3 linked regions of the Homo sapiens genome follow. The protein of the gene in region 1 purifies or fractionates together with the protein of each later gene. This does not show direct contact. Each region holds a gene or a part of one and is shown in the gene's direction. Other genes may lie near its edges. The genes, in order: JADE3, KAT6B and HRG.

The links.
Region 2: the proteins of JADE3 (region 1) and KAT6B purify together in Homo sapiens (affinity purification with mass spectrometry, with the first as the bait; one large-scale study listed by BioGRID). This does not show direct contact.
Region 3: the proteins of JADE3 (region 1) and HRG purify together in Homo sapiens (affinity purification with mass spectrometry, with the first as the bait; one large-scale study listed by BioGRID). This does not show direct contact.

The regions. Positions count from the first base shown.
Region 1 is NC_000023.11:47,051,921-47,055,570, forward strand, and holds part of JADE3 (protein Jade-3), read left to right. Parts: intron 1-2,237; coding exon 2,238-2,708; intron 2,709-3,650. UniProt on the Homo sapiens protein: Scaffold subunit of some HBO1 complexes, which have a histone H4 acetyltransferase activity.
Region 2 is NC_000010.11:74,829,579-74,833,228, forward strand, and holds part of KAT6B (histone acetyltransferase KAT6B), read left to right. Parts: intron 1-3,650. UniProt on the Homo sapiens protein: Histone acetyltransferase which may be involved in both positive and negative regulation of transcription. Required for RUNX2-dependent transcriptional activation. May be involved in cerebral cortex development.
Region 3 is NC_000003.12:186,664,476-186,668,914, forward strand, and holds the start of HRG (histidine-rich glycoprotein precursor), read left to right. Parts: upstream 1-1,538; 5' UTR 1,539-1,556; coding exon 1,557-1,739; intron 1,740-4,439. UniProt on the Homo sapiens protein: Plasma glycoprotein that binds a number of ligands such as heme, heparin, heparan sulfate, thrombospondin, plasminogen, and divalent metal ions. Binds heparin and heparin/glycosaminoglycans in a zinc-dependent manner.

The DNA.
Region 1 (3,650 bases):
CCCGTCTCTACTAAAATACAAAAATTAGCAGGACTTGGTGGCGCACGCCTATAATCCCAGCTACTCACAAGGCTAAGGTGGGAGGATCACTTGAGCCTGGGAGGCAGAGGTTGCAGCGAGCCAAAATCGCGCCACTGCACTCCAGCCTGGGCAACAGAGTGAGACCCAGTCTCAATCAATCAGTCAGTCTTTGGAAGGAAAGCTGTAACATTGTAACCATAACAAATAGTAATTAAGGCTAACTGAAGCACAGGAGTATAGTAGTCATGGGCCAGGTCCTTCCCCCTTTGCCCCCCCCTATGAATAGTCAGTACATACTGCATAGTAATGCTTAATAAATGTGTTAAATCTATGACTGAATGGCAGAATATTATAAACTTAATTTCAGATTGTCTGTAACCATATTGTTCAATAGAACTTTCCACAGTGGGCCAGGCACAGTGGCTCACACCTGTAATCCCAGCACTTTGGCATGCTGAGGCGGGCGGATCACCTGAGGCCAAGCATTCGAGACCAGGCTGGCCAACATAGTGAAACCCTGTCTCTACCAAAAATACAAAAAAATTAGCCAGGTGTGGTGGCAGGCACGTGTAGTCCCAGCTACTTGGGAGGCTGAGGCAGGAGAATCACTTGAACCCTGGAGGTGGAGGTTGCAATGAGCCGAGATTGTGCCACTGCCCTCCAGCCTCAGCAACAGAGTGAGACTCTGTCTCAAAAAAAAAAAAAAAAAAAAAAAAAACTTTCCACAGTGATGGAAATGTTTTATGTCTGTGCTGTCTAGTGTAGTTAAAATGTGGCTACTGTGACTGAGAAACTAAATTTTTTAATTATACATAATTTTAATTAAATTTAAGGCTAAGCGCAGTGGCTCACACCTGTAATCCCAGCACTTTGGGAGGCTAAGGCAGTCAAATCACTTGAGGTCAGGAGTTTGAGACCAGCCTGACCAACATAGTGAAACCCCATCTCTACTAAAAATACAAAAATTAGCCGGGCATGGTGGCACATGCCTGTAATCCCAGCTACTCGGGAGGCTGAGGCAGGAGAATTGCTTGAACCTGGGAGGCAGAGGTTGCAGTGAGCCGAGATTGCACCACTGCACTCCAGCCTGGGTGACAAAGTGAGACACCGTCTAAAAAAATTTTTTTAAAAAATGAAATAGCCACTCATGGCTACTTGGCCACCAAGTTGGACAGCTCAGTTCTATAACAACAATTTCACGGGGCATGGTGGCTCACACCTGTAATCCCAACGCTTTAGGAGGCTGAGGCTGGTGGATCACTTGAGCCCAGGAGTTCAAGACCAGCCTGAGCAACATAGATTCTCTATTTTTAAATATTTTAAAAAATTCTTTTTGAGATAGGTTCTCACTCTGTTGCCCAGGCTGGAGTACATTGGTGTGATCTCGGCTCACTGCAGCTTGGACCTCCCGGGTTCAGGCAATTCTCATGCCTCAGCCTCCCAAGTAGCTGGGACTACAGACATGCACCACCATGCCCAGAAAGCTTTTGTATTTTTAGTAGAGACAGGGTTTCGCCATGTTGCCCAAGCTGGTCTCGAACTCCTGGCCTCAAGTGATCCACCTGCCTTGGCCTCCCAAAGTGCTGGGATCACAGGCGTAAGCCACTGTGCTCTGGCCTAAAATTTTTATGTTTAAAAAAAAAATTCAAGAAGTTAGGTTACTTAGATATTGGAATTCCTATGACTTTTTTAGAACCAGTGGATGCTCTAGCAATAATACTCACTTTGTGTGTTTTCTTTTGTTTGTTTAGAAACATTTTCTGAGCAACTGCTTCTTCAATAGTTAATGACGATGCAAAATGAAAGACACAGCTTCTGTTTTTAAGATCTATCCCTAAGGACTTGACAATTGTTATAGGTACAGTGTGAAAAGTACCATTTTAAAAGCATTCATAGGGTGATGTGGGAGACACAGAGAAGAGACTACATGACTGTTTACAGGAGCCCAGGAAAGCATCTCAGAAAACTTGATGCTTGAATGCTTGAGCTGAAACCTCAAAAGGAGTGTTTGAATTATTTTTGGCCTCTGTGTTTGCTGTTTTCTGTAAGAACAGGTTTCTTGGGTTACTTGTAAAGCATCTGTTATGGTCAGTTTAGGACTAACTTTCTCCCGGTCTTTCTTTTGCTTCCTACAAGCTATCAATTTAGGTCCAGAAACATAGGTCTCTCCCTTTTCCTCCAACTCTGCTACCTTGACACCTATTTTCTTCCTACAGTGCTCTATAAAAAGCTGCATCACTGCCTTCCACGTCACCTGTGCCTTTGAGCACGGCCTAGAGATGAAGACCATCCTAGATGAGGGAGACGAAGTGAAGTTCAAGTCATATTGCCTCAAGCATAGCCAAAACAGGCAGAAACTTGGAGAAGCTGAGTACCCCCACCACAGGGCTAAAGAGCAGAGCCAGGCCAAAAGTGAGAAAACCAGCCTGCGGGCACAGAAGCTTCGGGAGCTGGAGGAGGAGTTCTATTCCTTGGTACGAGTGGAAGATGTGGCCGCAGAGCTGGGTATGCCCACGCTAGCTGTGGACTTTATCTATAACTACTGGAAACTGAAGCGGAAAAGTAACTTCAATAAGCCATTATTTCCTCCAAAGGAGGATGAAGAAAATGGGCTGGTGCAGCCAAAAGAGGAAAGCATTCACACTCGAATGAGAATGTTTATGCATCTACGCCAGGACCTGGAGAGGGTAAGGTGACCAGCTGTGACTAGTATATAGGCCTCGGTCTGTGTAGAAATGGAGGTCCCACTTCTGGTTTAATAATGGTCAGTCAGCTCATAATAGTGTGGGCTTCTGTGTCCTTGCTTATCTTCTGATCTCTTTATGGCCCCAGACATTGGGCTCTGTGTAAATTCTGACAGGCACATCCAGGGGATTTGGGAGGCCTCGGGTATATGCTCTATGAACTTTACATTTGAAATAAACTCTCATTTGGTTTACTTTTTATTCACTGTTGAGCCTAAATTGGCCCATCCATATTTTACTGACATATTTATGAGACTTTAGGCTGAAGAAAGAGTGAATTTTGTTCAGGAAAACACCAAATTAGAGTTTCACAAACTTGGCACTGTTGACATTTTGGACTGGATAGTTGTTTGTTGTTAGGGGGCTGTCCTTTGTTGTAGGGGCAATTTAAGATGTTTACCAGCATCCCTGGCCTCTACCCACTAGATGCCAGTAGCACCCGCACACACACCCCCAGCGTGACAACCAAAAATGTCTGCAAATTACCAAATTTGCTCTCCAGTTGAGAGCCACTCCACATGATAATTCAATATAACTCATGGTATATTTATCAGGTATCTACTAAATGAGATACTGCAGGGCTTCAAAGGTAAGTTAAGCCCTGTGTTTATCCTAGAGAATTTTCTAATTAAATGTAAATCTATAAATGGCTTGTGTTTTTTTTTCTCTGCTACCAGAATTTGAAAGAGAACTAATAGATTTGGCTCACTTTTAAAAATTTAAGACACTCACATATAGCACCTACTATTACTATTATTGCCAACACTGTCCTAAGCATTTTATAAATATTAATTCATTTAATTCTAACATGCCCATGAAAAACTATTATTATCATCATCACTATTTACAGATGAACAAACTGGGGCAAAGAAAGTTTGTGTAACT
Region 2 (3,650 bases), on another chromosome or scaffold:
GGTAGCTAGGATTACAGACATGTGCCCAGCTAATTTTTGTATTTTTAGTAGAGGTGGGGTTTCGCCATGTTGGCCAGGCTGGTCTCAAACTCCTGACCTCAGGTGATCCACTCACCTCGGCCTCCCAGAGTGCTGGGATTAAATAAATAGTTTTATGTGGCTGGGTGTGGTGGCTCACGCCTGTAATCCCAGCACTTTGGGAGGCCGAGGTGGATGGATCACGAGGTCAAGAAATCAAGACCATCCTGGCCAACATGGTGAAACCCCATCTCTACTAAAAATACAAAAAATTAGCTGGGCATGGTGGCGGGCGCCTGTAGTCCCAGCTGCTCAGGAGGTTGAGGCAGGCGAATCACTTGAACCTGGGAGGCGGAGGTTGCAGTGAGCTGAGATTGCACCACTGCACTCCAGCCTGGCGACAGAGCGAGACTCTGTCTCAAAAAAAAAAAAACAAAAAAAAAAGAAAAATATTTTATGTAAGTAGGGATGTGTAAGCTGTAGTGATCAGTCTTTGTTGCAGAATGGTAAATGATGCGTGGATGAGAGAAGTGGGGTGATGGGATATTTCTTCCCTTTAATGCCTTAATTTGCATTTCCAAAGCACCTTTAAGCATCTTTTTATAGAACTCCCATGATCTTCTGATACCTGTCTTCTCGCAGACCCCAGAAAGAGAATACACCAATTTTCGTATCATCTATTCCATTGTTGCCGAATATTTGAGTTGTTTCAAGTTTGGGGCAATTGTGAACAAAGCTGCTATGAGCATTCCTATACCTGTCATCTGGTGCCCATGTGCACAAGTTTCTCTAAGGTATACACCTAGGAATGAAATTGCCGGTTTATAGCTAGGGTGACCATTTGTCCTGGTTTTTGCTTATTTTCCCAGCGTAACTGTAACACTTTTAGTTTTCAAAAGTATCTAGGGTTAGATGATGAATTGTATGGTCACCTAGTCATAAGGTATGCTTGTCTTCATCTTTACTAAGTACCAAACTCTTCTAAAGTATTGTACCAGGTTACACTCCCTCCAGCAATATATGAATTCCCTTGCTTCTCGCCCTCTCCAATCTCAGCCTTTTTAGCTTTTATGATTTTAGCCAATATGGTAAATTTTGCGTTTACCTGATTAGTAATCAGATTGCACAGCTCTTCATATATATATATATATATATATATATATATATATATATTTTTTTTTTTTTTTTTTTTTTTTTTTTTTTTTTTTGAGACGGAGTTTTGCTTTTGTCACCCAGGCTGGAGTGCAGTGGCGTGATCTTGGCTCACTGCAACCTCTGCTTCCTGGGTTCAAGCGATTCTCCTGCCTCAGCCTCCTGAGTAGCTGGGATTACAGGTGCCCACTACCACAACCAGCTAATTTTTTGTATTTTTAGTAGAGATGGGGTTTTGCCATGTTGGGCAGGCTTGTTTCAAACTCCTGATCTCAGTTGACCCGCCCGTCTTGGCCTCCCAAAGTGCTGGGATTACAGGCGTGAGCCTCTGCACCCGGCCAGCTCTTCATATACTTTTTTAGCCATTTAGATAGCCTCATTTATAAAGTTCTGTTCAAGTCTTTCCCACCCTGCTTTTAAAAGTTGGGCCTTGTATCTTTTATTGCTATTTAGAAGTTCTTTATTTACTGTGAATACAAGTCCTTTGTCATGTGTGTGTGTTGCAAATACTGTGGCTTGCCTTTTCACTCTCTTTATGGTGTCTTTTAATGAACAGAAGTTCTTAATTTTAATGGAGTCAAATTTATTGGTCTTTACTTTATGGTTAGTGCCTTTTGTGTCTTGTTTTAAGACTTTTCCTACCCTGAGGTCAATAAGATATTCTCCTATGCAGTACTATCTTTTTAAAGCTTTGTTGACCTTAAACAATGTATAACTATGAGTAAAATACACTCTTCTTGACCCCAGCCTCACCATTACAATCTATTTTTGCTTTCCTTCACTTTTTTCTGTTCTCTGTCTTGAATTTTTACTTCTCTGCAGCTATAACTAAGAGCCAGGTGCTGACTTCTCCTGTCTCTTAGGAGAAAATGGTCATATAGACAGAAGTTCAGCCAGATTAGATTTTACAGGTCTCCAGCTGACTGTATTGCCCTTTTTCCTTTTATGAGCTAGCATTTTATTGTGTTCCTGCTATGTGTCTGCCATCATCCTTGCTGCTTTCATATTTGTTATCTCAGTGATTCCTCTTAACGGTTCTGTAAAACAGAGAAGTATTCTCATTTTTACAGAAGAGAAAACAGAGACTTAGATTGATTTAGTAGCATGTCCAATATCCCCTAGCCTAGGTAGCTAGCAGAATGGGGACTGGATCCCTGACTCTGATACTTCCCATCACAGCACACCTACTTGTTGATTAAAATGTCAGAAACCTGTTTTTTGATAACATCCAAAACCAAAAAGAATAACTTTCTTACTCTTGATGTAACATGCCTTAAGTAAAGCACACAAAGCTAACTATTGTGAAACTGGATAAAATACCTCTCTGTATATAGCCAGTGGACCTTAAGTGGTCCATGGCTGGATGACAGAAGGTCTGTTAACCCTTAAAAATGTATACCAGTGTATATGGGTACATGTGCTTATTTTTTAGAGTAGAGCTATAATATTTATGAAACTCTCAAAAGGGAACCTGAATTTTTCAGGGTATCTGGATATCTGGTCTGAAGACATCTGTAATACAGTTAACAAAGAATCCTGTAATAATCTCTCTTTCAAAAGAATCATAAAAAAGTTAAGATGTCAGATTTTTCTCAGCCAGGTGCAGTGGCTCATGCCTGTAATCCCACTACTTTGGGAGGCTACAGTGAAAGGATCCCTTGAGCCCTGGAGTTCAAGACATGCCTGGGCAACATAGGGAGACCCCCGCCTCTATTTTTATTTATTTATTTAGATTTTTTGGTATCTTCATTTTATCTTATTTATTTTGTTGAGATAGAGTTTTGCTCTTGTTGCCCAGGCTGGAGTGCAATGGCGTAATCTTGGCTCACTGCAACCTCCACCTCCTGGGTTCAAGCAATTTTCCTGCCTCAGCCTCCCAAAGAGCTGGGATTACAGGCATGCGCCACCACGCCTGCTAATTTTTTGTATTTAGTAGAGATGGGGTTTCACCATGTTGGCCGGGCTGGTCTCAAACTCCTGACCTCAGGTGATCCACCTGCCTTGGCCTGTCGAAGTGCTGGGATTATAGGCATAAGCCACCAAGCCTGGCCTTGTATCTCTATTTTAAAAAGTTTTTTAAAAATCACATTTTTTGGCCGGGCATGATGGCTCATGCCTGTAATCCCAGCACTTTGGGAGGCTCAGGCAGCTGGATCACAAGGTCAGGAGCTCGAGACCAGCCTGGCCAACATGGTAAAACCCCGTCTCTACTAAAAATAAAAACAACAACAACAAACAAACAATGGCATGGTGGCATGTGCCTGTAATCCCAGCTACTCAGAAGGCTGGGGCAGGAGAGTCGTTTGAACCCGGGAGGCGGAGGTTGCAGTGAGCCGAGATCACGCCATTGCACTCCAGCCTGGGCAACAGGGCAAGACTCTGTCTCAAAAAAAAAAAAAAAAAAAAAAAAATCACATTTTTTCCCTTAATACATTATTCTCGGTCTTTGTCATCAAAAACCAACTAAAGCTAATTTGTAA
Region 3 (4,439 bases), on another chromosome or scaffold:
TTCTCAACCTTGACTGCACACACTGGATTACCTAGGAGTTTAAAAACTACCAATACCAAAGTCCACTCCCAGAGATTCTGATTAAATTGTCCTGGAGGAGTCCTTGACATCAGGACTTTTTAAAGCTCCTGGGGTGATTCTAACATGAAGCCGAGTCTGAGAGACATGACTGCAGACTCTCACAGACACTCACTGCGGATAGAACAGGGAGGAATGGAGATGCTGCCTAACTGGCTGTTTCTTGGCAGTGAGGACGGAACCTAGGCTGATTCCCTCTGGTCCCTTCTGATGCTGCTGGCTCTGCTGGTCTGAGGGTTGCATATAGGTATACGGGTTTCTTCTGAAGTGTGAAGGTAGGGGGTCAGCTGTATCATAGCCCAGTCCCCCCCTGCTGATCCCTTCTAACAGTGGGATGGGCATCCAACTATTTGACTCTTACTCTCACCACCATCCTCTTCCACGTGAATCAATTCTTTTTGCAGGGAATTGGGGTGGCATGAGGTGTCCCCAACTTCTTTGCAGGCACACTAATAATAAATAGCATCACTTATTCAGCATCTACTCTATGCCAAGAATTATACTGGTTGCTTTCTTTTTTTCTTTCTTTCTTTTTTAGATGGAATCTCACACTGTCGCCCGAGCTGGAGTGCAGTGGCGCGATCTCAGCTCACTGCAATCTCCGCCTCCCGGGTTCAAGTGATTCTCCTGCCTCAGCCTCCCAAGTAGCGGCGATTACAGGCATGTGCCACCATGCCCAGCTAATTTTTTGTATTTTTAGTAGAGACAGGGTTTCACCATGTTGGCCAGGCTGGTCTCAATCTCCTGACCTTGTGATCAGCCTGCCTTGGCCTCCCAAAGTGCTGGGATTACAGGCATGAGCCACCGCACCCAGCCTGATTTCTTATTTAATTATCACACAAGCCTGCCAAGAGGTATCAATCCATATTTCGTAAATGAGGGAACTATCAGAGAAGTTTTGTTGCTTACCCAGCATTACACAGTAAGAAAGTAATAGAGCCAGGTGAGAAATTCAGATTTGACTTCAAAACGACAGCCTCTTCATTGTTCTATTTTACCTGAAGTCATTCCTTTTATAATGGTACCTGTTTAACATGTTCCCCCGCTTAGATAATGCAGCTGCCTTCTACTGAGGAGTTTTAGTGCCATGATCCATCAGTCCACTGACTGATGATGGAGATTTCCAGCTGAGACAGGCAGGCAGATGGAGGAAAATTACCCCTAGCCCCACCCCCTACACCAACATAGGCACTGCTTATATTCAAAGACGTACTTTAGATCTGCTATCTACTAGAAAAATCCAGATTTGTGCAGATCACAGTTCCACCCACTCATCAGCATTTCTCAGCTTTCTGCCCCCAGGACCCACTAATCATTTACAGCTTGTTGATGGTTATTTGAACCCAGGGTCAAGGTGAACACCCTCAGTTACACAACAAAAATGTATCAAGGTTTTGTTTAATCAATTGCGTGTGTTTCAGAAAGTCTGTATAAAATTCTCTGCAGTGGCAGATCATAGCAAGGGATGGTTTAACAAAATGAAGGCACTCATTGCAGCACTGCTTTTGATCACATTGCAGTATTCGTGTGCCGTGAGTCCCACTGACTGCAGTGCTGTTGAGCCGGAGGCTGAGAAAGCTCTAGACCTGATCAATAAAAGGCGACGGGATGGCTACCTTTTCCAATTGCTGCGGATTGCTGATGCCCACTTGGACAGAGTGGTGAGGAATTGCCAATGGCAGAGCTGAGTTGGGAGATTACTCACGGGGGCAAATGTGACTCTACCCCCTAGGCTTACTGCTTTGCACAATGAATGGCTTTGGTCAGAGTTTTTTGTTTGGCTTCTGCGGCTGCTCTAAATTGTTCTTTTTTCCTTCAAACTAATATTTGTTATTAGTGTACCCGCAACTATGATTCGATTTGTGGGTACATATAAGCATTTATGCTGAGCCCAGTTACATGCTAAGGACTGCCAGAGAAACATTAGAATAAGCTATGGGCCTTGGCCTCCAGGAAATAATAATACACTGGCACATACAGGCAAACAGTGTAAGTTACTAGGATAAACTAGAGAGAAGGAAAAGTTTTCTCAACCCTCCTAAGGCTCCTAACTGAGCCTGAAATAAAACTGGTAGACAAGGCCAGGCGCGGTGGCTCACGCCTGTAATCCCAGCACTTTGGGAGGCCAAGGCGGACGGATCATGAGGTCAGGAGTTCAAGACCAGCCTGGCCAACATGGTGAAACCCTGTCTCTACTAAAAATACAAAAACTAGCTGGGCATGGTGGTGCACGCCTGTAATCCCAGCTACTCAGGGGGTTGAGGCAGAAGAATCGCTTGAACTCGGGAGGCAGAGGTTGCAGTGAGTCGAGATCATGCCACTGCACTCCAGCCTGGGCAACAAAGCTAGACTCCATCTCAAAAAAAAAAAAGAAGAAGAAGAAAACATACAAATTTATTTAATCCAAGGTTTACCTGACACTGGAGTCTTCATAAATGAAGACTCAGATATCCAAAGAAACTGGCCACTTGCATACTTAGAATTCACAAAGGCTGTGCAGAATGCAGAAGTGTGATGGGACAAAAGGCTGTAATCTAAGAGTCATAGACTGAAAGAAGGACCCAGCAAGGCCTCTCTGTTTGAGTTCTTCATGGCCTCTCTGTGTGGCATTTCTTGCTCCCAAGTATGGGACAGGATCCCTTTGGAATGCGGATCTGAGGACCTACTATCAAACAGAGTAGGTCAGAGAATGTCTTTATGGCCAGCTCCTACAAAGAAAGACACAGGGGGAAGGTTAGATTCATATTTTAGGATTTATGGATGCTTTCGGGGAGAGGGATTCTACCATCTGTGACTGTCCTGGAGAAGAGAAATTTTAGTTTCTATGGCTTGCCTTGGGGGAGAAAGCAGAGTAGGAGAACAAAGGGCAGAAGGTCAGACAGATCTGGCTTCTGAGGCCCTTCCCATTTTCTTCAGTTCAAAGGACTCAGCACGCCAAAAGTACCATACTTTGAGATACCATGTTCTGAGCCCCAACAATAGCCAAGTGACCAAAGGAGTGGTAAATGTACTGGAGCAATTTAATGAGGGGAGATCTAGTAAGACTGGATGGGAGGAGGCTTCTGCTGTGTAATGATGCATGGGTAGGATTTGAACAGGTCTGGGTAAATGTGTTCCTGGTGAATTCCTGGCACCACCACTTCTAGGTGGGTATGGAATCAGGAAGAAGGGTGTTAGGGAGCCATTGAATATAAGCAGGTGGGTTCCAGAAGTTCCATGTGGGCTCTGGAGCAGGCATCAGGTAGGAGCCAAGCCTGTGGGCTTGTCTTGAGGTGAAACAAGCTTACTGTCTTCGCTTAGATTACACGCCTACCTAAACTGGACTAGAGGAGCCGATAGACATTATAGAGAGACATGAAGCCTGCCTCTAAGCTCCCCAAATAACCTACTCTCCCTCTGATGGAAAAACTGAAATTAGGGAGGCCAGACAAGGAGTACTACAGAGGACAATTTACCCTTCTGAAAGTATCACAGAGGGAGGCACTGTGGGTTGCAGAGAACAGGTGTGCAGGAGTTTAGGATTCAACCAGTAATTCAGTGACCATTAGTCCCATGCCAGGCTCATCAACACATGTTAGGGCATAGGATGCATCAGCACAGAGCTGCCTCTGAGAGCTAGCATAGAGAGCGGGTGGATGGGGAGGGGTCCTGATGTGCCTGGGGAAACTGAGGCAAGAGACAGGGACATGAAGTAGAAAGCTATTTATGTATTCAGGAATGAAAGAACAAGGGTCAGACCTGGGTTAGTGGGAGTCAGGGCAATGAGACTGAGGAATAGACATGAGAGACGTTGCCAAGAAAGACCATTCAGGGCCTGGTACTGGATAGCAAAAGCAAGGACAAGGAAAACATCTCGTAGGTTTACATGTTTTACCCCAGAGTCTAAGGCAATATGTTGTTAGTGGTGCCACTGACAAAGACGAGGGAAGTGGAGAGGGCAGCTAGTTTGTAAGAGAAGAGAGAGGATTTAGCTTTGGGCAAAGCAACATCAAAGCAGAAAATCCCATGATCAGTAATAGAGCTGGGCAAGAGGACACAACTACAAGGACAGATTGGAGGCCCTGATGAGGTCGTCATGACTTATACTTCCAGGCATGCGTAGGTGATGATGCCTCCGCTAAACCACCACTGCCGTTTAGTGATAGCTTCTTCAAGTTTATGGGCAGAAGACAAATCAGGACCACTTAAAAAGATTTGGAAATAACTCATTGAAGCTATGTATTGGAATCAATAGATCAAATGACGCAAAGGTAGAGCATCTGCAAAGACAGTGAGAGGAACAGGAATTCTGTTTAAGTAATAAATATATAGCTTTAATACATAAAAAAAAACCCGCTAGGTTTCCATGTGCTACTCACATG